4 linked regions of the Homo sapiens genome follow. The protein of the gene in region 1 interacts with the protein of each later gene in a biochemical or structural test. Each region holds a gene or a part of one and is shown in the gene's direction. Other genes may lie near its edges.

Region 1 (7,919 bases):
GGGAAATCCCAGGATAGTAACTCAATAAAATTCCAGACAATAGCCATGTAGCAACAGTACAGATTAATATGGGATGATGGATGGCTTTGGGAGACAGGTCTTTGATTAAAATTAGTGAGTCTAATAGATTCCTGATACACTTGATTATGTGGAAAATAATATGAGGAAGGACTTTATAGTTCTTAATATAGAAGAAATAAAAGAAATAAAATTTAAGCAAATTATTGAGGGGGGTAAAATCCAACAAAGTTAAAGTGGTCCAAGAATGTAACTTCTGTTTTATGCTGTTTTAAGTTTTGTACTACTATTTGATTTTTTAAATTATGTGCATTTATCATTTGTATAAAAATAAAAATTGATTTTAAAAATGTTACATGGTAGCAGAGACCATATCCTTGACCCCAATAATTTCAATGTGGTAATGGGGACATGTGGCATCTTCAAATTTTCCCAAGTATCCAGCCTGCCTACTCATTTATAATGTAGATTGACCTTGAGAACATTACAATAAAGAAATCAATGTTGTTCTCTCTCATTTGGAATAATAATAAGCCATTGAATATTCATTAAAGTTAAAGAGCAGCCAGAAAACCATAAGCAGCATCCTGGGAACTATAACATACTTAGCTCTTCAAATCATTTCTTGATTACAGGTAAGTACTAGGTATTTGGAGACTAGGACATATAATGGTAGTAACTATCACTGGTAATTTTGTAGCATGAATAAGTGTTCAATTTTCCACTAACTTCAATAAGAAATCAGAATGATTTGTAAATAAACTATTTATTCCTAAAAAAGAAAGCCCCAAAGAGGTTTGTAGTTAAAATGAATTTAAAAAGGAGAGGCAGAAAAAAAATGGTGTGCTAGCTTACTTTTCAGAATTTAGTTGATGAAAAAGAAAACAATTAACATTTAACTTGGGATAACATGTACTAGAATAAATTCTTGTAAGCATTGCCATATGCAACATTTACATAAAAATGTGCAGATATTTTACAAGACGAACATTTTAGACACATGACATTTCTGGAGGTTGCATGGGAGAAGTAGCACTCATTGCCCCTGCACTTTTTCTGCAAATCCAGATTTGCAGTATTCAGATTTGCTGTTGTTCTGTCTCTATAAAATCAGTTCTGCCATAGCCAAGCAGCAATTATGGCTACAATGGCTGCTGAATGCCGTGTGCTTTCAGCCACCTTTATATTCCCCCACAGTAAAGGGTGTCACTACATTTTAAATTATTAACATTAGCAAGGGGAATAGGGTGTTTCAGAGGACTTTTAACAGTACATAAACAATGACATTTGTAAAGAAGAAAAATATATAACAAAGAACCGTAACAAGAGAAGCTTGCAAAGTACCCATAAGGATAACAGCAGGAATGTATCTGAAAATATGCTCTCATTTCCATAATAAGCTACCCTAATGTTTTCTGTTAAAATGAGGGCTTTACCTTAAAAGATCATACCAAAGAAAGAAGAAAATGAAGTACTAGAATAGATGCTAGTTGAGGTAAGGAGAGTCAAATGGAAGAAATTAAATGTAAGAATTGCCTTTTTTTTGTTATATTCATATACACCGTAATAAAGCTTTTTTTCACAGCCCTCTCCCACTACTCTTTCCTGTCTTCAAAATAGGTTGGTGGTCTACAAGCTCTGAAAGCTGGTATTTCTAGCATATGCATTTTATATGTATATTAAGATAAAACCCCTAGTCTTCTTAACAGCGCTTACAAACTTCAAGATACTCTGTTGAAGGGAAACAGAATGCTTATGTCCTGGATAAAATCCAATCTCTCAAACTGGGTAAAAAAATTTGAGATAAGGAAATAACTTGCCAAAGAAAACAGAGAGAAAAGATGTCTTGTGTTCTGCCAAACAGAGGATATGCTATCAAGAATGAAAGAAAGGACTTGCTAAAACTTTTGAAACAAAAACAGCCAGTACTGCTTGGTCTCAGGATGAGTATGGAAAAATAGAATCCTTTATGTATGGTAAGGAGGGAATCCCCAAATATTGCTTGTTCACAGGCTTAAATGAGTAAGGAAGTCATATTTCCAGTGAAATGTTCATGCTTACATTTTCCACATCAAGAGTTGGAAAAAGCCCAGAGAAAAACAAAAATAACAATGGAGGGTAGAAGACAAGAACTTAAATTGCAATTTTGTGGACAAAGGACTATACTAAAAATTTGGAGAAAAATTAAAGAAAGGTTGGACCTGAGGAAAAAAGTCTACTGTGGTCATCATTTTCCATCTCCAAGTCTAAAGAAAACAGAAAAAGGGCAAATAGTAAAAAGAAAATTGCATTTAGATAAGTCATAAAATTTCCTGAAAGAAAAGAAAATCAAAACAATAGATAGTCTAGGCTAGTAAGAGGTTGTGAAATGATTGGAACTCAATAATTCTCAGAATGAGATAAATTCTTGAACGCAGCTACTGTCCATTCACCTATCATCTCATGGCCTTTTTTTTTTTTTTCACAGCCCTCTCCCACTACTCTTTCCTGTCTTCAAAATAGTTTGGTGGTCTACAAGTTCTAAAAGCTGGTATTTCTAACATAAAATTTGCTAATCTTTCAGTTTTTATTAAATTAGAAGCTAATAGGATTCTATCTCTGGATTTACAGTTTTAAAAAGTTTTATTTTGGCATACTGGGATATATGTAGCCTATTTGATATAATATATGGCCTAATCAGAAATTCTGCTATCAAGTTCTTCACTATATTTTTGAAAAAATATGTACAATTGTATATTTGAAGGACAGTTTTTGAAGAGTCAGAATTAGAACAAAGGTAAGAATACATATATTAAGTCTTGATCCCTTAGCTCAGGGAAAGCAGAAAAGACCATAGGCAAGGACTGTCAATGGCCGACAACTAATACTTGAGTAACCACTATGTATCAGGTACTTTACATGTGATACCTTTTTTTAATGTCTTATAATTTTAGTTTAAAAAAATTTTAATACACAATAACTGTACATATTTATGGGGGTACATAGTGATGTTGCAATACATATAACATATAGTGATTAGGGTAATTAGCATATCTATCATCTCAAAAACTTATGTCTTTGTTTTGGGAACATGCAATATCCTTCTTCTAGCTATTTGAAACTATACAATATTGTTAACTATAGTCATCCTACAGTGCTACAGAACACTAGAACTTATACCTCCTATCTAGTTGTAATTGTGTATTTTACAACTTTGAAGTAGGTGTAATTATCCCTATTTAGACTATACCTGTATGAAACAGAAATTATTTTCATTTTACAGATGAGGAAACAGACGCAGAGAAGTAATTTGTCCAAAGTCCATAGGGTTGTAAGACTCATAACAAGAACTACAACTTGGGCCTATCTGAATCTTATACTTCTGGTACTATACTTGTTCACAGGTTTGAAAAGAGCTTTAATTTCTATTATTTCTCAAGAATTTGTAATGCTTTCTCTTGTCACTGTGCTTTCAACTTAGAGGAGTTGCAGTTTTGATAAAAGACAAACTGATTTAGCTTCTAGGTTTGTTAAATATGTAATTCAGAGGCAACTCCAGGCTTATATTTCTACGACTGCTTTCTAAATCTAATTATTTTATAAATAGTCCTGTTGCTTTAATTCACTTTTTACCCTAACATAATTAATCAAGTTTAACTTTGAAATCTCCATATTTTATGTGAGAACTCCCAAGGCTATCCACTTTTATTTTCCTTTGTAAATTTATTGTTGCTCAGCCTATTTCATTAATGGCAGCTTTAATTATAATATTTTATTATATTTTCAAAGTGCATGATAATGGTTTACCAGTCTGGTTAGTACATCAGAGATTTCTATTGGGAGCTATCAGAGATGTTAACATCCAACAATTTTACCAAAGTGTAATTGTTATAGACGTCTTAACATGAATTTACGCAACAAAAATATGTTTAATGTGGAGAACAGTGAGATGCATATTTGATAATTCACTGCAGTCTGCATCATCATCTCTATATTCCAAAATTTCGTCTTAAGCCGTTTAGTATTTAACTTACAGAAGAAAGGGGGTTATCTTAGATAACTTTTAATATCCTAAGGTATTTTCCAATTCACGATACAGGGAGAAAAGAAATGTGTCCAGGCCCTTAGAAGAAAATACTTTGAATTTAAATGTGACACATACATTAAACCCGCGTGACACGCCAGGCAGGCGGTGGAAGTCAAGTGCATTTGTTTTTGTTTCATCCACCAGGGCGATCTCTTTCACAATTCTGGGAGAGGCCTGTTTGTTCCTCCACTCCCACAGCTGAAGTTTGGGACAAAGTTTGAGAAAATCCCAGGCACCTGCGGCTCCTATCGAAGCCGGCGAGGAGCACAGGGTAGAGCGTCTCTTCCCAGTTTTCAGTCTTCAGATCGCAGGCCTCTCGGACCCGCAGAGCGAGCTTCACGCTGCAGCGCTTGAGAAATAAGAGCTATTCCAAGGAGGGGCCCTGGGTCCTCACTGACGCTTCGCAAAGGTGTACGTCCGCCCAGGGAAGGCCGGCGGCGCAGCGACGGCGAGGAGTCCCCATCCATCTTCTCTTCAAGCAGCAGTAGCTGGGTTCGGGTACCCAACCGACGAGCCGAGACGCCAGAGGCCAGAGTACGAAGTTGGAAGCCTGCGCCCCAAGCCAACCGGGATTCCACTTAGCTCCGCGCGGTCCGCGCCTCGGCCGGAAGGGGGCGTGGCTTCGGGCCCGCGCCGCGAGGCCCGCCGCCGAGTGGGGGGGTTTCTCCCGGGCCGCAGCCGCGCGTTTCCGGCGCGCTCCCCCGCGCCCTCCGTCCTGTGGTCTCGCCCGCCCCCGCTGCCATGTTGGATTGTGCGGCCGCCGCCGCCGCTGCGGGAGGGTTGGGGGAGGAGTTGGGAGTTTAGCGCAGTCGCCGGAGTGCGAGGACAACGACCATCCGGCCCTAGCCTGGCCGGGCGGGTGCCGGGAGCTTCCCTTTCTCAGCGCGGCGCGAAGGTGGCTCGCCGTCAGCGCCTGCTTCCCTCGACCTCGTCCTCCTCCCCGCTCCGGAGGAGCTGCGAGATGTGGCGCCTCTGACTCCACTTCTCCCCGCCCCTGTCACCGAGAGGGGGAACGAGCTCTCGCCCACTCGCCGGAGGAGACGGCCCTGGACTCCCAACCCCGCCGGCGAAACCATGAGCTCCGTCCAGCAGCAGCCGCCGCCGCCGCGGAGGGTCACCAACGTGGGGTCCCTGTTGCTCACCCCGCAGGAGAACGAGTCCCTCTTCACTTTCCTCGGCAAGAAATGTGTGGTCAGTGGACGAGACCCGCGTCGCCACCCGTGACATTACCTCACGGGCCCGGGCTTGGGGGCCGGGAAGTGGGAGTGGGGAAGGAGGCGGGAGCGGCGCGGGCCAGGCCTCCCGCCAGCCCCGGCCCCGGCCCCGGCCCCTCGTCGGCGCCCTCGCCCTGCTCCCAGGGTGCGGGCCGTGGCGGTCGGGCGCCGCCTTCCCGAGCTGCTGGAGAATAAGGGAGTGTCACCTCCGCAGGCCTGTCCTCCAGCCTGGCCGGGCCTCGGCCCGCGCCCTTGCTGCTGGTTAAAACTTTATTCTCAGGCCACAAGGGGATTTTCTTGCAAGAGCCGCTTGGTCCTAGAATCTGGGCCCTTGTTCTAGCTCTCGCTTCACCTCTTACTGCTTGATCTGGGGGTACGTTCCTTAACAATGCCAGGTTTGAGGAGTGGATAGGTCGGGGAAGGAAGGTGGTTTTTAATCTCCCATTAGGATTCCAGGAGGGAATGAAGTCGAGTGCAAGAGCCTGGGCTCTCTTCGGATTAGAGAGGGTGCAAGAAATGTTATTGCTCTTCGTTAAAGAGAAACAAGATTTATTTCTCTAGCAACCTTGCCTAGGCCTGGTTTCTACTCTCCTTCCCACTGATTTTTTTTTTCCCCCCATTGGTGGGAGGGGGTGCTGCTCTCCCCGCAGCCATGCGCAGGGAAACCTCAATCTCTGGTAGCTCTTGGCTTTTGGGGCCGAGAATGATTCTTAGTTTGGTGCTGTGCGGCCAATTCCAACCCCAGATGGCCGGTTGGGAGCGAGCAGTTCTGCTGTGGGAAGGGGAATGTGTGTTGTTGACGGAAGCATTCATTACATTGGCTGCTGGCAATTCTGGGGGTGGGGAGGTTCTGCTCTGTGGTGTAGGCCTTGTCGGGATCATACTGCGGTGACTGGGTTGAAGTGTGGTTTGTTGAAATACTGGCTGGATCCCTTTCTCTCCACTTTGCTAGCACCTGCAGAGTATGTGCCACTGGAACCCAGAAAACACGGAAATTTCAACAAAGCAATACCATTTTATAACTCCTTTAAGTAATATTAGGTATGCCAAACCAGATTTCACCTGCTTCTTTAAGAAGTTAGGATTAGACAATTTCTGGAAAGTTATTGGATTCATTGTTAACTTCATAGGAGTCCACCCTTTGTATCTTGTGCCATCCGGTTGGAGATTGAATCGTTCCATTCAATTTCAGATGTGTTTCATATTTCGGAATTTAGACCTTAGAGAACATTGAGTTTCCTGATTAGAAGGATGAAACAAGAGGAGTGGCTCAAAACGAGAATTTTGGGTAACAACTTTAAGCCCCTCCCCATTCACACACACTTTTTTCAACAAATGAGAAAACTGATCCAGTGAGCCCAAGTCATACAGCAATTTAATAATGTAACCAGAACTAGAAAACCAGGACTCCTCACACCTAGTCCTATCCCATTGTACTTTGCACTACATCATGTTGTTTTAGAAGGGTATTTTTTTTTCCTGTTACTGATTTATTTCTAAAAGTGGTGTTAAAGAAATAACCACTTTGCCTTTTTCACCAAAAACTAATTAAAATACAAGATTCTTAAAGCACCACTAATGTTTGCATATGCTCAGTTTAGGAAAATCTTCAGCACTTTGAATGTTAGTTACCTCCAATGAAAAAAATTCAGTTGCTGGTTTAGTAGATTAGCTATGTAACCTGTATCAAAAAGGAAGTAGTTGTGCTGTGTTCTACATACCAGACACATTAACTTTAGGCAGAAAGGACATTACATTTATACACAAGTATACTAATTGTTCTGTGCTTACCTGTAGTTTTACTGGTTTCGAAAAATGGCAGATGGGGAAAAATACTGTGATAGAGAAAAATGATGTTGCACATTGGTTAGTGTAAGTGGATTGCTGAATAGGCTCTCAGTATTCAGTGCTTAATTTCTTTATGCCATCTTTTATTAATCAACTGTACCTTTTGAATTTGTCATTTAAAAACCACACTTTCAGTTGTCTGCTTTTGTGGGATGAAGTCGTTGCAAATACTAATTTCAATATTTGAAGTCCCTAGTTAATAGAGAGTGAAGTAAGAGTGATATTTTAATTTTTGAAATAATCTTTTCCTCCCTTGGCTGATTATTCAGGTTGTTTTTGTCCTTTAAAACATTACTGAAATATATTGTCTCATAATAAATCCAGCAGTAAGATTTACAGGTCAGACCAAATGTGTTAGGCAGAAGTATACTCAGTACTCAGAGCTCTACCTAAGAATTCAAGAAATGAAACAGAAGCAGTTATAGTCGAAGCTCTGGAGGAGCTTCATTTCTTCTTTCATTCAACAAACATGTATTGAATAAATGTTGAGGTCAAAATCTGGAAGGGCTGATACTTGTCCTCAGGGAGCTTACTAGGTCTAAAAAGGGAAACGTGTAAACTGATAAGTCAGTGCTTCAGAGTGATGTGTAAGAGGCTGCTTTTCACAGTAGAAAATGCCTTGGCTTTGTAACAGCAAATGTGGGTTCAAACTGGGGGTCACTTTGGACAAGTTTCTTGAGCTTCCTATCCTAGATTTGGTTTTCTCATCTGTAAAACAAGGATACTATCTCATGGGGTAGTTGTGTGGATTAAGACTGTGTATAAATATATGG
Region 2 (7,035 bases), on another chromosome or scaffold:
TTTTATTGAGATGAGGTCTTACTATGTTGGGCCAGGCTGGTCTCAAACTCTTGGGCTCAAGTGATCCTTCCACCTCAGCCTCCCAAAGAGCGCTGAGTTTACAGGTGTGAGCTGCTGCGCCTGGCTGAAGCTTATGTTTAAATTTATATATATATATTTAAGATAGAAGAGTCCATCAATACTTGGAGAAGAACAAAGCAAATTCCTTTAAATTGTATCTCAAAATAATAGGAAACTTTGTATATATGTGTTTGTAGTATTTTAAAAATTGGAAGTAATTTAAATTTAATTGGAAGTCATTTGAATTTAATTTTTTTTTTTTTTTTAGCTTGCTAGACATTATTTTAGAGTGACCATTTTATACTATGTTTTAAAGTTTATCTGTAGGGAAAGTTCTGTTAAAACTGGTAATTTAGTCATCAGAAGGTCCTTGTTTGTTCTGTTTAAGTATTTAAAAACATTAAGGTAAAAGTTAAGCTTCATTGCATAGAAAGTATGATGTTTTACACTGAATAAAGGGAATTATTCTAAGAATCCTGTCCCCAAATTAAAATGTCTTTAAAGCCCCCTAAAAAGGTGTTCTAGTGTTCTAATACCATTAACCTAGGAAGTATTGGTGCTTTGTTCTGGTAGTGCATGCAATATTAAAATGAAGGAGCTTTTATCTGAATTATTGAATAACTGTACAACTTTGGATTTAAAACCATTTCCAACATAAGAGGTGAAAGTTATTTTTTTCCTCAATTTTAGTCTTCTTCAATTGGGCCATATAACCTAGTTGAGTTTGTGACTTTGCCTTGAGAAATGAGGTAACACAGCATGGAACAGTCTATCTTTTCCAGACCTTGAATGAGGAAGGCAAATGATCTAGACATTTCTTAGAACTAGACGAAAAATAGTCATAGCATGACTAGGAGTAGTTTTATCTGTAGTTAGGCGAATGCCGCTTCTTTACATTATTGGTGCAATGAAAGTATGGGAAAGTCTCAACAGAACAGACTGGACATTTGAGAACCTTCCATTTTTCAAAATTTCAGAATCCTCGCAGCAGGTGTGTGAGACAAGGATTGGGGACAGGAGTTAATTGCTCTTTTGGAGTTCCGATAAAGATTTATAGCTGATTTTAAGTCATGGCTGCTAGAATTTCTAAGCTTTCATGCCATGAATGGACTAATAATAAACATTTTAGACTTAACATCTATTTTAAAGCATCACTCTTAAAGTTTATTTCAATATACCTTCAAGATGGTAGATTTTTGACCCTTATAAAAATACATATTTTTTGTTTTCAGCCTGAGTTCTACCAAGTATGCCACACCAAAAAGGATTATGAAGAAATTGGACCTAGCATTTGTCGTCACAATCCAGTGTTTGGAGTCATGTCGTAAAATTGGCTTCATAGTTATTGGGGTTAGGGAGGTGGGGAAGAGATAATCTTTCTGATTACCTGTTTTGTCTGGATGGCTGGTTTTGAGGTTTTAAACCTGACTTGAAATAGTAACACCAAACATGATTATACAGGAATATTTTAATAAGTGTATCACCATGCAGATGTAGAAGAGAGCGAAAGTGATTGTGTTTTTCTTTAGATTGAATATTTGAATCTTATGTGTAACAAAAAGAAGTGGGTTTTAGTTCTTTCTGTGCCCTGATATTTTGTATATTAATGAATTATCCAAGATTCGATGGGATTTATCAGTGTGTAGATAGCTCTATAATGCTTGAATTGTACACTTCTAAGTGTGCAGTGCAAGAGCTTGTTTATATTTCATACTTTTTATACTTTGAGGAAAAAAAGTCAAAGAAAAATTGTATTTGAGGGAAAAAACCATGACCAAGTAAAGGATAAATTCAAAAAATAGCCTCATGAGACTTGGCATACACACTCGTGGGATTCCAGTTATTATGGAGTGCTTCCATCCCTCTCCACCCCTTCCCCCCAAAAGGTTTTCTTTGCAAGTGCTTTTGGAACTAAGAGCTAGTATCTTGGATTAACTGATGCCTGCTAGTGCTTTCTGATTACTCGCATTCTGTTTCTTGCTTTAAAAGAAGAGTAAAGACAAGAGTGTTGGACCAGTATTGCAGTTCTGTAGTGTCATTTCTTATAAAAAACAAAACAACAACAATAATTTATCAAAATTGGCATATTTAAAGCCTAACATTCTAATAAAGGCACAAATTTCTTTTTAATACTTGTTTCAGCCTCTTTAATCTCTTTATAAGTTAACTAATAAATCTATTTTCTTCAGACTTCTGCAATAGTTCTTTAAAATCACAACAGTTAGCAAGCTGACTTTTGTAATGTGCTCAATACAAATACTTGTGAACTTTTAATATGTTGAGTGCTTTCATTTTGATAACTGGATCTCCATTTGATATTTTCATTTGTATAACTCATTTGCAGTCTGAAAATTTTTTTTAGTGCCAGTCCCTGAACATATCATTGAAAGTTAATTTTCTTTGCATTTTAAAATATCTGGATTATGAAGAAAAAGTGATGAAAATAAATTAAAACTGAATTACCTTTTCTAATGTTTTTTTTTTTTAAGTAATGTAATTCTATTTTGTTTTTATGTATGTGATATCTGTTTCTGTTGAGATTTGGGAGTTATTGAAATCTCTGTAATGTGTATGGTAGAAAATTTCTTGTGACCTTAAAATTTTACCAGTTATTTATAGAAAGAGAAAATGGGAAATGTTTTATAGGCTTTTTACTAGCAGTATCAGTGAACACTTGAACTCCATTATTCATGAAAATAACACGTTAGGATTGGAATACGTCTATTCAAAAGTGAAAGAATATAAAGTGTTTAGTTTTTTGTTTTTACTCTAAAGATAGAATTGGGGAGTAAACTTCAGTTTTTGTTTAGAGTGGATCTGAATATTTAAAATCCTATAATAATTTTTGTGAATCTTCATTCTTTGAGTATGGGATTGTAAAAGACAAACTATATCCTACAGTAGTATCATCATCAGTATCAAAGGTCTCCTTTTTTTACTTGGAAAAGTAATTCACAAACATTATAAAAATACTATTCAAACAGTACCAAAGAGTAGATTAGCAAAAGTAAGTTTTTTTCCCTAGCCTGTCTCATTTTTCCATCATTACACAGACTACTTGGAATGTCTTAGATGTCCTTGTATTGTAATTTTCTGTGTAGGTAGAAATAAATGTAGCTTTCTTATTTTACACAAATAGGAACTTACTGTATATACTGTTCTGCACTTTGCTTTTATTAAAGATCTTTTGATAAAGAACTATATTGATAAGCAGTAAAGATGTCATGCTCCTGGCCCAATAAAATATTGTTAGCATTGTCATAAATATGTCTTTTCCACCGGCGATGGTTGGGTAGTTAAGTGAATAAGCTAGAAAGACATGTTTATAAAGCTATTTGATGACAATCTCAGGCATATTTATACAGAGATGTTCTTAACTGTTTGCTACAAAAACATGAAGATCAAAAACTTTCTTGAAGCTTACGCTTAACTTATTTGGGGAAACAAAACTCCAGCCCTTCTTGTGTATGTTCTGATATCCCTTTGCTCTACTTTTAGAGGAGTGAACCCTAATAGGATGGTAGCAGCATTCTTGTTTCTTTATATCTCTCCTCTGTGATTGTATACCGTTTTTTCAACTTAAAGCAACTTCAGCTGGAAATATGTAGAGGTTGGCCAAGGTGAACTAAATAGTCTGTAACATTGATTAGATATCAAGCAACGTGAGCATGGTAGCAAAAGCACTAACTGAAGCCAGTGATTTAATTTTTAATTCTGATTCTGATAATTGATGATATAGCTCCTCGAACTTTGTTTTTTGTTAAAACTTGGAAAATATATTTGTATTATTTTGGACAAATTATTTGAACTCTCTGGACCTTGATTCAATTTATATATAAGGTAAAGGCATTATACTGGATTATCCTGCAATTTCTTTGAGTTGTTAGAATATAATGTAGCTTATTAATAGCAATATTAGCAGTGTAGTAGATTCTGACTGCAAAACCTAGCCTTTTCTATTGATTCATTAGTGGTAGTAAAGGTATTATCTGATTTATCCTTTTTAATAGGCAGTGCTTTGATCAAGTGGGAAATAGTAATGGACAAATAAAATCAATGATCATTATCTAACTTGATGCCTGCTTTTCAAAAAGTGAGCAAATTTCACATCTTCACCCTTAGACATTAATTCATGGCACCTACTATAAGTACTCATCCTCTTCTTACCTATCTTCTTTTCTATAGGAGATAAAGTGGTTATTCAGACCCCCCAATACAATTTTTTGGTTTGTTTTCACAGCTACTTAAAAGATTAAAATAACTATTCTTGCAGATATTTCTAGGAATATTTTTAGAAATAATATGAAATACAGGGATAATAGGCCAATTATGATCTTTATTTTTAATTTCTACAGAAAAGTACTAGAGAATATATCTATAGAAACTTCTTTCAGATAACCCTAAAGATGATACTAGAATGTTTATAAAATTATTGAGAAGATTATTTGTGTTATAAAGCTTATTTGTACCATAGTAAAGGATGTTTTTGTTCCTCTTCATTCTGGGCTAATCTGTCAATACTGAAGTCCAGTCTTTTCCCCCTTTTCTTACCAGCTCAACCTTGATTCCTGTGACCCATTCTTTCTGATCTTTCGTAGTTCATAGTCACCAGGCATGAGTACCTTGGATAGCCCTCTGAAGTCTGTTACCACCCAGATTTCCAACTCGGGTTAATTGGTACTAATTCTATTAGCTGGTATAAATAATCCAAAATCTGTGCAGACTCTGGGAGCAAAATGTTCTACTCAGTTTGGAATACTGTGCCTTAAAATATATTTCATTGTAACAGCACCTTGTATATATAGTTGGCCAAGGACAGAGTTGTTACAAGTTACGTGGAACTTTCATAGCAAATCTTGACAGTAAATACCTTGTTCTTGTATTAGGTCTATATCCTGAATTGACCTTTAGCAAGAATCTTTAGATCTGCTGGAGGGCTGGGATGGCTTTTGGACTTCAGTGAAAAAGAATTTCTGCTACTCATTGTTGATAACGCTTCAGTACTGTATAAATGTTTATCCTTTTCCACGTAATTTGTTTTCTATGATATGAGAACTTTTATTATAATTTGCCTCAGTCTTGATAGAATCTTAACAAAAATAAAATCTGTGGTCGTCTGAGGTATTCTCCATGCTATAACCCAGTTTAGCTGATGCATTTGGAGCTTGGGTGCTGAAATTAAATATAACCTATTTGAGTTAAGGATTTATTACTAGTGCTCCAGTGGTCACAGGAACAATAAAAAAGGAACAACGATAGAAATACGTGATCTAGGAAAGAAGGCAACTGAAAAACCTGAAAGAAAAAAAATGAAAGATTAAAAGTATACGATATTCTATTTTGATTTAGCAATTACTTGTTTTCTAGTGTTCTGTCAATTTTTGGTGACTTTTATAATTACATTAAAACTAAGATGCTGAATTAAAATAAAGTTTCTCTTTTATTCAAGCACCAACATTCACTTATATTACCTATATATTGCATCAAGTTTTGAGCCTTCAATCCCAGAAGCATTGATTGACTGTCTACTGTGGTTCAAGTACTGTGCATAAAGATGAATAAATATTCTGTCCTTGGCTTAGTCTAATAGTAAAGGCACTCTTAGAGGAGGGACAAATATTTTGCCTAGATAAGATTTGAGAGATAGTAAGTGCGGAATTTCTCTTCATAAAAATGGTAGTGTTAGTTGTTTAGAGGGAGAAGTCCAGCTATGTAAGGTGAAAGTGGGGCTTATAAAAGTGGATCTATTGTTTAAAAATTAGTACTTTGCTCCTAAAATTTTTACCTAAGTGTTACATCCAACAACAGATGAAAGTAATTCGACAGTAGCATCTGCTTTATTCATTTCATATTTCCAGTGCCTGACATATTGCTTGGCATATAGTAGTTTAGTGGATGTGTTTGATGAATGAATGAGTAAAAATTATTTTTCATGTTAAAATAAAACTTTGAATTACATGAGTATACAACTTTTGTTCCTTCAAAATACCCATATTTGTCAAATATGACCGAATTACGACTTTTTTTCTGTTCCACTAGTTTCTACCTTAGAAGTGACATTCTGCGTAAGGTAGTGGGGGATTACTAAGTGATCATGACTTTTCTGAAGCAGGTCTTAAATAATTATCTAAGCCTTCAGTCATTTCAAAATCTCTGTAGTGTAAATGATCACAGGCTCTAAATCAGATTGTTGTACAAGGTAATTGACATGTCCTGAAATGTAACATTCAACATTAACAGTAGAAACAGGCCTCATTTCTCCCTCTGGCTTTTATTGATCAATTTTGATATTGTCCAGATCCCATGTTAAACCACTTGATTTAGAGATGACTTAATTCTAAACTTCCTCCATTTTTAATTAATAAGATTCAAGGTTGCAGTAAATTGTTAATCTTATTTGGAATTATATTAGAAAGTCGATATCGGAATTGGAACCACACATCTTTTTCTTATTGTGGGTACATGGGATCTTTCCCAAATAAATTCCTGAGCAACAAGAAAATCTGAGACTTGTTTTAAATGCTAAAATGATTAGTTGGAATAATGTATACATTCATGAGATGACTAAAGCACTAGTGGGGTAGTTTCTACTGCAGTAGACTGATTTTTCTTAGCCCAAACCTTGAAAGATGAATGTTTTAGTAGATGGAGAGTAGGTGGGGATGATATTTTAGATATGGCAGAAGCAACTTGAGTTACAGCAATTGGGGAGGGGATTAGAATATTGTGATTAGGAGAAGTGAGGAGAAGAGTGGGAGAGAAGACTGAAGGATATCTGACACCTTCAAACACACCCTCAAACACAAACATTGGCTAAAAAAGTTGATGCAGTTCAGGGTGAAATCACACACATGATTGACATAAATAACATTGTGGAAAAGTGACTTTGCAAAGACCACACAGGTAGTTGCAGAATAGAACTTACTGGTTATAATTTTTTTGATATTTTACTGAATAGCATATGGTTTATTAAAT
Region 3 (2,896 bases), on another chromosome or scaffold:
TGTGCTGTTTCCAGCTAAGAAAAAGGCGAACTCCCACTATATAAAGGGAAAAGGTTGTATTCATTTCATGTTCCTCATGAAATCTCTGCTGTATGTTTATGGAATGGCCATGACTAAATGTATATATGGTATGTAAGAGGCCATGCTGTTAAATGTTGCATAAACTAACACAGATTCTGTAGTCAAAAATATTTAACTTGTTATTGTAAAATGTGATTTGTCATTGAGAGATTATTTTTCTGTATGTATATGAGAGTATTTTAGGAATCTAATTTAAGTGCATAAAACTATAGAAAAAAATTTAAAACCTATTCCAAGAGTAGAAAATGCTTAATGAGATTACTTGGGTTCAACTCAACTAAATTTCTTATATTAAAAAAAAATTCCAAGTTGTATATGTTAGAAATCAAATGAGTCATTTTTTTTCCTGCAGGAAATATGATAAATTTCAGTGTAATGGATGGTGGCGTGATCAAATGAAAAGTATCCTGTAGCTATGACCTCGCATGGGACCTTGGTGTTGCATTAAAAATGGATTTTTGCAGATCACATATCTGAGAGGGTACTTGTGTCAGGAAGGATGAGAGGATAGGGAGCCTGTTTTTCATCAGATCCATGTGCCACGCAGGCTTCCTTGGGTTCTAGTGGATTTGTTAGGGATCTGGGGCTGACGCAGCTATCCCACTAGAGAGGCCACTCTCTGACTTCCAGGTCGCCCTTTCTACTTCTGTATCTGGATTGATTCAGTTTATCCCTAATTAGCGTTTGCGTTTTCCATGAAATTTCCTGATGCATCCTCACTGTCTTCAACTGTTGCATAGCCAGGTGGGTGGATGGATGGTTTAGGGTTTCTGAGTTAAGCCGTTTTGGGGCAGGCTTCTGGATGCCCATGTTTCCATGGAGACCCCAGGGGGAAGATGCCTTCCTCCCGTCTGCATTCCCAGAAAAGGATCAGAAGTCCAGGCTGCTTCTGGGGCACAGACTTTCTGTACTTGGCCACCAGAAGTGCCCCTTAGGCCACCTAAGGAGGATTCTGTGAAACTCAATGTCTAAACCCCTGAGAAAGGCATTCAGAAATGATTTCAGGAGGGGGCAACCCCAGGAGTCCAGCCTCCCCTGGCAGCCTGGAAATACTGCAGTAACAAAAAGAGCTGGTTTCTGGTGATCTGAATGCATTGTGTTTGGGGGTGACACCGCTGGTGGAAGGTTGAGGGCCTGTGGTCTGAAAAGACATCTGAAGAATGTGTTAGGTTTTCAACATTTCTTTGAACAGGCTGCGTGCATCTTAATGCTGTCAACCAGCAACTGGAGCCCCTTTTTTGAGAGGCCCGAACCAGTAAAGCTGCTGACTTCAGGAGTATGGGAAGCTGTGATTTCTGGAAGCTTCCTGGAATCTATTTAGGTGCATGAATAATCTGCAAATCACTTAGAGGCACTGTCCATGTGGTCCATAACTGGCTTTATTCCCAAAGATGGAGCTGTTCAGAGATTTCTTTGTTCAGGCGCAGCCTTGGAAGGCCACCTAAGGCCTGCCAGCAGAGGAGATGAGCTCTGGTCTACCAACCCCAAACAGGCCCTGACTCTCCTTCCTTAGAACGATGCCCTCTGGCTGGGGTGGCAAGAGGGCTGTGAGTGGAAACAAGTCAGCCAGTCAACTGTCCCTTGGGCCTTGGTTGTTTCAAAAAAGTCTGGGGACAAGAAAAGCTAGAACATGGGGCCCTCCCTTCCCAGGAGTGCTAGCGAACCCTCCCAGATAGCCTTTGCCTGTTTGGAAAAGAATGTAATCCATCAGAACGTGAGCTCCTTGTGCTTCCAGTGACAAGCGGGCCACAGTGCTGGTGGCATGTTGCTTCCCTCACAGCCCTGCCCAGGGGTAGGACCAGGCCCGCCCCTTGATGGATGTGCTGTTGATTGTAATATACTTCTGTTGCCAAATAATGGTACTGTTTAATTTTCCATAAAAGAGAGACTATATTGTCTGATATGTAATGTTAATGGAATTCTAAGAATTACTAGACACTATTATAAATTGTAGACTTACGTATTTGTCTAAAGGTTTGATGAAGCAGGGCCAAAACATTGTTTCTTCTTTTTTGTTTGAAAGAAGCTGAGGTTTGTTTTTGCTGTTTGAGTGTTCCTTTGGCAACTTATTATGTGTGAAATGTTAAATTTTACCGATTAAGATGATGGTAACTGAGACCTTTCTTTAAACCAGTAGCAACATCAGTACAAATTGCTCTTCCTGTGTATCTTGAACCTAAAAAGAACAATCTCTTCAAAAACAAAAACAAAAACAAAAAACAACTCTTTGGTCATTTTGACCTGTGTGGTTTAAATTCAAATAGTTCATGAATAAAAGGAGAAAAGCCAATCTGTTATAGTGGATTATTTTGGGTTCTTTCTGCTTCACTCTTTTCTGAGAGCACAGGAAGCTAACAGCCCTGCAAATGGTGTCTCTTCCTCTTCCCACAGATAAGATTGTAGCTGTGCAAGGAAAATTGTGCAGAAATAAACCTAGAAAACAAAACCAACCAACAACCCTTTCAGCTGTCCTGCGGCTTCAGATAAATGTTAGCTAACACCAAGCAGAAATAGATTTCTGTGTACGAAGTCTTTGTGAGAACAGGAGAAGTTTTGTGTTGTACAGCATAAGAAATTCTGAGGGTGGGGTTGAGAGGGCGGTGCAAAAAGCTGATTTTCTTATAAAGACATTCAGAAGGGTCGCTGAATTTCCAGGAAGAAGTTTCTAACACACGTAACTCCACGTGTTCAGCACTTGGGTGATCTATAATTCTGCGTTCCATAAAACCCAACGCTGAATTGTATTAGGTTGTTTCCTCCTGTTCTGGTTTTAAGGCCATTCCTACCTATTTCATCACTGATTTAACTGACTATA
Region 4 (7,035 bases), on another chromosome or scaffold:
CACCCATATGTAGGGCATGGCTGTCCCGAGACAGAGTGACTGCATGGAAGTGAAGTCCCCATCATGGGAGGTGTGTAAGCAGAGGCTGGCAGATGCTTGTCAGGGAGGCTGCAGGGCTGAAGTTGGATATAGGTTCCCTGGAGGGCAGGCAGGACGCAGACTGGCCTGGAGGCTGGGCTTGGGCCTGTGAGGATGGGGGCTGAGCCTCTCAGGGCCTTAGTGATGAGGGTGGTGCCCTGCACAGGGTGGCAGGGCAGCACACAGATCCGCTTCTTGCCTGGGGAGGAAGGATCGTTGTGAAGTGGCCAAAGAATTGAAAATGAAAAGTCACAACTGAGCCTTGAAGGGGAAGAAGCTGTACCTGAGGCTGGGGCCAGGCTAGGCCTGGGTGTCCTGGCCATACCACTTCCCATCTCTGTGCCTCAGTTTCCCTCTCACAGGATGGGACACATATGTCTACCTCCCAAGTGCTGGGAGCTCAGCCCAAGCCATGCGCCCCTCAGTCTCCACAGACAGGGCTCCAGCTCTGGTTAGCAGCTCTGCTGGCAGAAATGTAGCGTGGCTGCCCGTGCCACCTGCCCATCTGCCAGCTGGGCTTTCAGGATTCTAAATGTGGGGTTCTGAGCAGACAGGGGGTCCCCAGAAGCCAGCCCAGGCTTGAGGTGCCGGAGCAGGCACCCTCTCTGAGCTGGGACGTGCCCGCAGAGCCTGCAGAGAACCTGCCAGGAAGGAGGGACCCCGGCCCTGCTATTTTGGGCCCTCCTGTGGCCAGAGGAGCTGCACTGGCTGCAAAGGCTGTTTTGGACAGAGCATTCTTTCTCCAAGTGGCCAGGGCCCCGCAGGCAGAGCGCTGTGTTGTAGTGTGTGCCATGTGTGTCTGAGCCTGTGTGTGTATGTGCGTGTGCCACAGAGCAAGGACATGTGCTTACAGGATGGTGCACACGTGCCTACGCTCCCCTGCATATGCCTGTGAGCATGTGTCCTTGTCCAGCCCTGTGCACTTGGGTGTTTTGTGCTGTGTGTGTGTGAGTGCCTGTGCCTCGCTGGTCTCCCAGCTGGCACAGAACCCCTCCCCTGAGACCCCAGGCACAAACTGGCTCAGTTCTCCTCCTACCTCATAACCCAGTCGCTGTCCTGGCTGTTTTGCCTTCTCTATCAGAACAGGAAGCCTGGGAGGTGAGGGGAGGCTTTGGCCCCAGACCTCGGCACAGGGGCCCAGTGGCCACTGTGCCTGCATGTGGCCTGTGGTTGTGTGTGGGTGACTGTGGGAGTGTGTACTTGTGAGTGGCATCTGTGGGTGTGCACAGGAATGCCTGTGATCATGCGTGTGGGCAGCTAGGGATGGGGCCTGTGTGCCTCCGAGTTAATGTGGAACTCTGCATGTATGTGTGTGCCAGAGTGTACACACACGTGTGAGCGACTGTGATGCCTGCAGAGGCTCAGGGATGCAGGATGAACGACTGTGTGCGCACGTGTGTTGGGGTGGGAACTCCCCAGCTGGAGACGAAGCTCTGGCCAAGGTCTGCAGCAAGGACCTCACGGCACACCCATGCCCTGTGATTCTCTGTGGCCTTCCATTGTGAGGGTCACTGTGAAGCAGCAGGCTCTGGGGGAGGGAGGGCAGCCTGTCACCCTCTCTCCAGAGCCAGGAGAGGTGCTGCGCCTCATCCCAGGGACACTCCGTCCTCTTGGCCTAGGGGAGCCTCCCGAGGCCGCGGCCCTCGGCTCAGAACCTCGTGTCCCCTGCAGTATGAGGCCGTCATGGACCGGGTCCAGAAGAGCAAGCTGTCGCTCTACAAGAAGGCCATGGAGGTGAGCGCCAGGGCCTGGGGCCGCGGCCTTCCCTCGAGGAGCAGCGCAGGTCTCAGGGTGCGATCCTGGGCTGTGGCCCCGGGCAGGGCATTTGGAACAGGCTGACCTCAGCCTTGGTCCTCGGACCTCGGCCTTGGGCGCACCAGCCTGCGGGGCGCTTGGGCCCGTGCTGGGCGCTATGGCCCCGTGGGGATGGTCCCGGGCCCTTCCCTTGTGGGGCTCGTGAATGAAGGGCAGATGAAGTCAGCTGGGGACTCCAGGGGTGGAGGGAGGAGGGACCCCTGAGCTTGATCCTGCGAGACGCTGGACAGGAAGGGAGAGGGGCTCCTAAGAGGGCGCGGCGTGGCGAGGGGCGTGGCGAGGGGCGTGCCCTCGCCGAAGAGCACAGCCCAGGAGGCGGGGCCCGGGGCAGGCCGCGCTGTCCTCAGTGGGGAGGGCCTGAGAGCAGGACTACCAGCAGCCCCCACGCCTTCTCTATCTCCTTCCGGACCCCCAGATCCCTGTCCCTGGTGAGGATGCCCCCACTCCACCCGCAACCCTCGCCAGGGAAAAAGGGAGGCTGGGCTAAGGGAGCCTCACTCCCGGGGACCACAGAACAGGGCTGTGCAGCCCCCAAGTCACGCCCCTCCACACCCCCAGTCCAAGAAGACATACGAGCAGAAGTGCCGGGACGCGGACGACGCGGAGCAGGCCTTCGAGCGCATTAGCGCCAACGGCCACCAGAAGCAGGTGGAGAAGGTGCGCTGGGCTGCTGGGCCGTGTGGGTCGCCCAGGGCTGGGGGCAGTGGGGGAGGCAAGGAAGGGGTGCCGTAGACACCCCCAGGCAAGATCTGCATCTGGGGATGCTGCTTAGCCCTCTCTGACCCCCAATCTCCCCATCTGTGAAATGGGTTTCCTGGAGAGAACCTCAGGCCATGGACAGGCAGGTCAGCTGGATCCCCTTTGCCACCGTCAGGCGGCACTCAGGGACCCATTCCTCGGTGCAGGCCCACTGAGGCCCACAGGGTGATGAGAGCAGACGCCAACCCTCACACAACCTTGGAGAAGGGCTCAGTAGGCCCATGTCACAGAGAGGAAACTGAGGCTCACAGTAAGTGACTTGTCTAAGGTCTCAGAGCCAGGAAGCAGCAGAAAAGGGACCCCCAACTCAGGTGGTCTAGAGCCCATGCTCCTGATGCTGTGGCCCCTAGGCCAGAGTGGGGGTATCAGAGCTCCCAGAGCCCAGGAAACACATCACTCATTGCACAGACAGGAAGGCTGAGGCCCAGAGAGGGAAGTGGCCTGAGGGTGAGCTGGGGGCAGTCAGTCAGGGGCCAGAGCCCAAGTCCCAGCCAGGGGGCTCAGCAGTAGTTGCACCTCTCCTGTGGGTTGTGGTCTCACTCTTCACAGGCATCCTCCTGGGCTCGGTTCCTGTCTTCGTTCTCTTTCCATGGAGCTAGCCTGTGGTCCTCTGTGGGCGGAGGTTGCTTGTGGATGATGGCATCTGCCCATAGTTGGCTCCTGAATGTTCCCCCCAGGGTGGCCGGGGAAGCTTGACAGTCACTTCAGGTCTGCTGGGGTGGGCCCTGGCTCCTGGGGCAGGGGCTTAGCGCTGCTTCCCCTCTGTTTCCTCAGAGTCAGAACAAAGCCAGGCAGTGCAAGGACTCGGCCACCGAGGCAGGTATGTGGGCCTGGCTGCCCCGTCCGACCAGGGCGGAGGCCTGGGCGGTACTCCCCACACACACCTCCTCACCCTGGGGACACACACACTCCCCCTGGCTGCACAATCATGGGCGCGGCGCTCTCATTCCAGATATGTGCCGTCAAAGTAAACGCTGTGTTCCCCCATTCGCCAGCCCTTCTTGGCGCTTCATGTGTTCAGTCCTCACAGCTGCCCTCCGAGGTGGCTGCTGTTACTGTTCCCTTTCTTAACAGATGAGGAAACAGAGGCACTAAAAGGTCCAGTACTTGCCCCAGGTTACAGCTGCATTTGAACCCAGGCCATCGGGCTTCAGAGCCCAGGACTTGTGCACATAGCCTTCTCTGGGCCTCTGTCCTTCACTTGATGCCCGAATCCTACCAACACTCTTGTCCCTGCTGGTGCCCCACCCACCAGACACAGCACCCACCCTCCTCCCTTCCCCTGGGAAGGCCTCTCCCTTCTGCTCTGCCTTTACTGGGACTCAGCTACTCCCTCGGCTGGGGGACAGGTGACCTCCAGAGATCTGGGCACAGAAGTTGTGACCCAAGCCTGTGGGACTCCACCCCTCCTCCAGCGCCCTCTCAGCTGCCTTCTCTGAACCTCAGTTTCCCCTCTGGAAAGTGAGGTGGGGCGCCCAGAGATGCCCAGAGGCCAATACTCTGGACTTGCATATATGAGGCTCCACTCCAGCCCTCAGGCAGCTCAGAGCACAGTTGGGGAGCAGCAGCAGCACCAGCGTGGGTGGCCCTGACGGGCATTCAGATGAGGCCCCGCCATCTGCTAGGGCAGGTCCCATGGGGGAGGCGGGGCTCCCAGTGGGAGGAGGCATCCAGGATGGGACCTGCTGGAGTACAGGGGTGGAGGAGCTCGTGTCAGGGCCCTCCCTGAGGCTGCCTGCGCTTTCAGAGCGGGTATACAGGCAGAGCATTGCGCAGCTGGAGAAGGTCCGGGCTGAGTGGGAGCAGGAGCACCGGACCACCTGTGAGGTGAGTGGCCCACGTGGAGCCTCGTTTTCCCCAGCTGGGAAGTGTGAGACGCCCATCCCTACTCCAGCTGCTTAAAGGGGCCCAAGTGAGGCAGTTGGGGAAGGTACCTGTTACTCACTCGTTTATTCAGCCTCCTGCTCACAGGCCTGTGCTGGGCCCTGGCCCTGTTGCTTGTCGCCTGGCCTTGAGTCCTGGGCCCCTTCGTTGCAGGCAGGCATTCTTCCACCCTCTTTGTTGAAGCCAAAACTGGGACTTGGACTAAACCCACAGCCTCTCTGGGTGCTGCCGATGGACAGGGCCTGGGGAACAGGGCTCAGGACTCCCGTCCGAGGTCCCTCTCACTACCCTTCTGCCTCGGTGTGGTGCAGCCTGAAGGGAGGCTGGGGCAGGGACCCCCTGGGCATCTCCACCTCCCTCCCTGCAGCCTCAGGGCTGGCCCGGAGTCGGGATGGGGACCCCAGGGCACTCTCTCCTTTGGACTGGGCTTCCAGCAGAGAGGGCTGGCCTGGTCAGCTCCGGCTGAGCTGTGAATGGGGCCCAGCCTGGCCGGGCCCTGCAGCCGCCTCCTCACTGCTCACCTCCCTCCCACTGCCCCCAGGCCTTTCAGCTGCAAGAGTTTGACCGGCTGACCATTCTCCGCAACGCCCTGTGGGTGCACAGCAACCAGCTCTCCATGCAGTGTGTCAAGGATGATGAGGTGGGGGCTGAGGGCCTTGGTGTGGGGTAAGGTAGGGCAGCCTCTAGGCAGCAAAGCACCCAGGTCCATCTGAGCCGGTCAACAAGCACCTGGTCCTCTGTGATCCAAGCCTGGCCCCAGGGGTCTCAGGCCTCAGCAGCTCAGCCTTTGCCCCCAGAACCCCAAGACAGGAGCTCAGTACCACACAGGGCCATGGCTTCTCTGCCTGGAAGATGATGACTCTGTGGTTCCCCTGACTTCCTCCTTATGCCTCAGAGCCACAGAGCACCTGCCCCCTCTGCCGGGGATGGGAGGGGAGGTGGACACAGCTGTCAGAGGTTGGCAGAAGCTGGAGGACCGTGGCTGCTCTGCTCTAGGCCTGGTGCTTGCAGGAGCCGAGGCGCAGTCCTTCCTCTGCTCCCCACATCTCCAGGGTGTCCTGGTTCCCCTTACTGAGCCCAACCTGCTGGGTGGGTCCTCCCCAGCAGAGAGGGCCCCCAGCCAGGGTCCCTGAGCTCTGTGGATGGATGCAGCCCAGCACACGGCTCTCCCGGGCAGCCCTGGCCCCCTTGCCTGCTGTGTTTCCTGCCTGACGCTCCTGTCCGGGGCTGTGGGGGTTGATTTTCTTGTTGTTTTTGCCCAAGTGACTCGAGCCCCCTGCTGCCTCCTCGCCTCCTTGAGGTAGAAGGGCGAGCTCTGGACCCACTCTCCTAGCCCCAAGGCCTGGCTGTGCTGCATTCTCGCTGTGACCTTGGGCAAGTCACTCTCCTCTGAGTTTCCTCATCTATCCAATGGGAAAAGTGGGGTCTACCTTAGAGGACAGGTGTGAGTTAAGTCCCTTGCACAGGGCCTTGCACACAGAAGGTGTTCAGGAAACAGGAAGCTGTCAGCCAGGGCCGTGACCCCTCAGGATCAAAGACCCCGAGCCGCGCACAATGGCCTGTGAGGAGGCCGGTGGGTGGGGGCCGCTGGTCAGAGTTCAGGCCCACAGAGGGGCAGAGTGGGCATCGGGCTGCGGCCTCTGCTCTTTCCTGCCCCAGCTCTACGAGGAAGTGCGGCTGACGCTGGAAGGCTGCAGCATAGACGCCGACATCGACAGTTTCATCCAGGCCAAGAGCACGGGCACAGAGCCCCCCGGTGAGGTCCGGCTTGCGGACAGCGCAGCCTCTAGGTGCATTGAGCCCCTGGGAAGGCCCGGCCCTGAGCCTCAAGTGCCAGGACCGGGCTGGGGTAGCTCACAGCTCCCTTCAGGGCAGAGAAGCCCTAGCAGGGGTTGTGGGGAGTTGGGTCCCAGGCCTGCTGCCTCCTCTCAGGCAAAGCTAAGGGCATGATGGCACTCAGAGGAAGAGGTGGGGATGGGGATTGAGGTGAGGAGCTCCCACGGCCCCCACTCCCCGCCTGTTTGGTTCCACTGGATCACGGGTCCAGAATATTAGGTCTTGATGGTACCTACGGTGGGGTCTCTCATGGGAGCAAGACAGGCACCTCCTCAGGCACCAGGATGGGCCAGGGCCAGATTGGGAATGTAGGGCCCCAGCTGAGTCTGGCAGGGCCAGAATGGGGTGTTGGGGGCCGCCCTGGGGCTCACGGCTTGCTGTCTGCAGCTCCGGTGCCCTACCAGAACTATTACGATCGGGAGGTCACCCCGCTGACCAGCAGCCCTGGCATACAGCCGTCCTGCGGCATGATAAAGAGGTGAGGCCCCGACAGACGGAGGGAGGGCCTAAGGCTGGGCCAGGAAGTGGGTCGAGCCCCTCCTCTGCACCTGGCCCTTCCTCGTTCACTGAGCACCTACTATGTGTCTGTATCTGGTGCCCAGTTTAGGTGCTGGGCACTCTGTGGAGACAAGATAGGCTCAGTTCAGCCTATGGAACCCTCAG

Evidence for each region.
Region 2: the proteins of WASL (region 1) and ACTR3 interact in a test that uses a peptide from one of them, tested with the Homo sapiens proteins (one study listed by BioGRID).
Region 3: the proteins of WASL (region 1) and ITSN1 form a complex in vitro, tested with the Homo sapiens proteins (one study listed by BioGRID and IntAct).
Region 4: the proteins of WASL (region 1) and PSTPIP1 form a complex in vitro, tested with the Homo sapiens proteins (one study listed by BioGRID).

The regions. Positions count from the first base shown.
Region 1 is NC_000007.14:123,745,974-123,753,892, reverse strand, and holds the start of WASL (actin nucleation-promoting factor WASL), read left to right. Parts: upstream 1-4,889; 5' UTR 4,890-5,158; coding exon 5,159-5,275; intron 5,276-7,919. UniProt on the Homo sapiens protein: Regulates actin polymerization by stimulating the actin-nucleating activity of the Arp2/3 complex. Involved in various processes, such as mitosis and cytokinesis, via its role in the regulation of actin polymerization.
Region 2 is NC_000002.12:113,956,068-113,963,102, forward strand, and holds the end of ACTR3 (actin-related protein 3), read left to right. Parts: intron 1-1,292; coding exon 1,293-1,388; 3' UTR 1,389-6,529; downstream 6,530-7,035. UniProt on the Homo sapiens protein: ATP-binding component of the Arp2/3 complex, a multiprotein complex that mediates actin polymerization upon stimulation by nucleation-promoting factor (NPF).
Region 3 is NC_000021.9:33,897,491-33,900,386, forward strand, and holds the end of ITSN1 (intersectin-1), read left to right. Parts: 3' UTR 1-2,371; downstream 2,372-2,896. UniProt on the Homo sapiens protein: Adapter protein that provides a link between the endocytic membrane traffic and the actin assembly machinery. Acts as a guanine nucleotide exchange factor (GEF) for CDC42, and thereby stimulates actin nucleation mediated by WASL and the ARP2/3 complex.
Region 4 is NC_000015.10:77,026,103-77,033,137, forward strand, and holds part of PSTPIP1 (proline-serine-threonine phosphatase-interacting protein 1), read left to right. Parts: intron 1-13; coding exon of another isoform or gene 14-70; intron 71-1,697; exon of another isoform or gene 1,698-1,749; coding exon 1,750-1,812; intron 1,813-2,451; coding exon 2,452-2,550; intron 2,551-3,426; coding exon 3,427-3,472; intron 3,473-4,399; coding exon 4,400-4,479; intron 4,480-5,077; coding exon 5,078-5,176; intron 5,177-6,195; coding exon 6,196-6,292; coding exon of another isoform or gene 6,293-6,326; intron 6,327-6,759; coding exon 6,760-6,850; intron 6,851-7,035. UniProt on the Homo sapiens protein: Involved in regulation of the actin cytoskeleton. May regulate WAS actin-bundling activity. Bridges the interaction between ABL1 and PTPN18 leading to ABL1 dephosphorylation.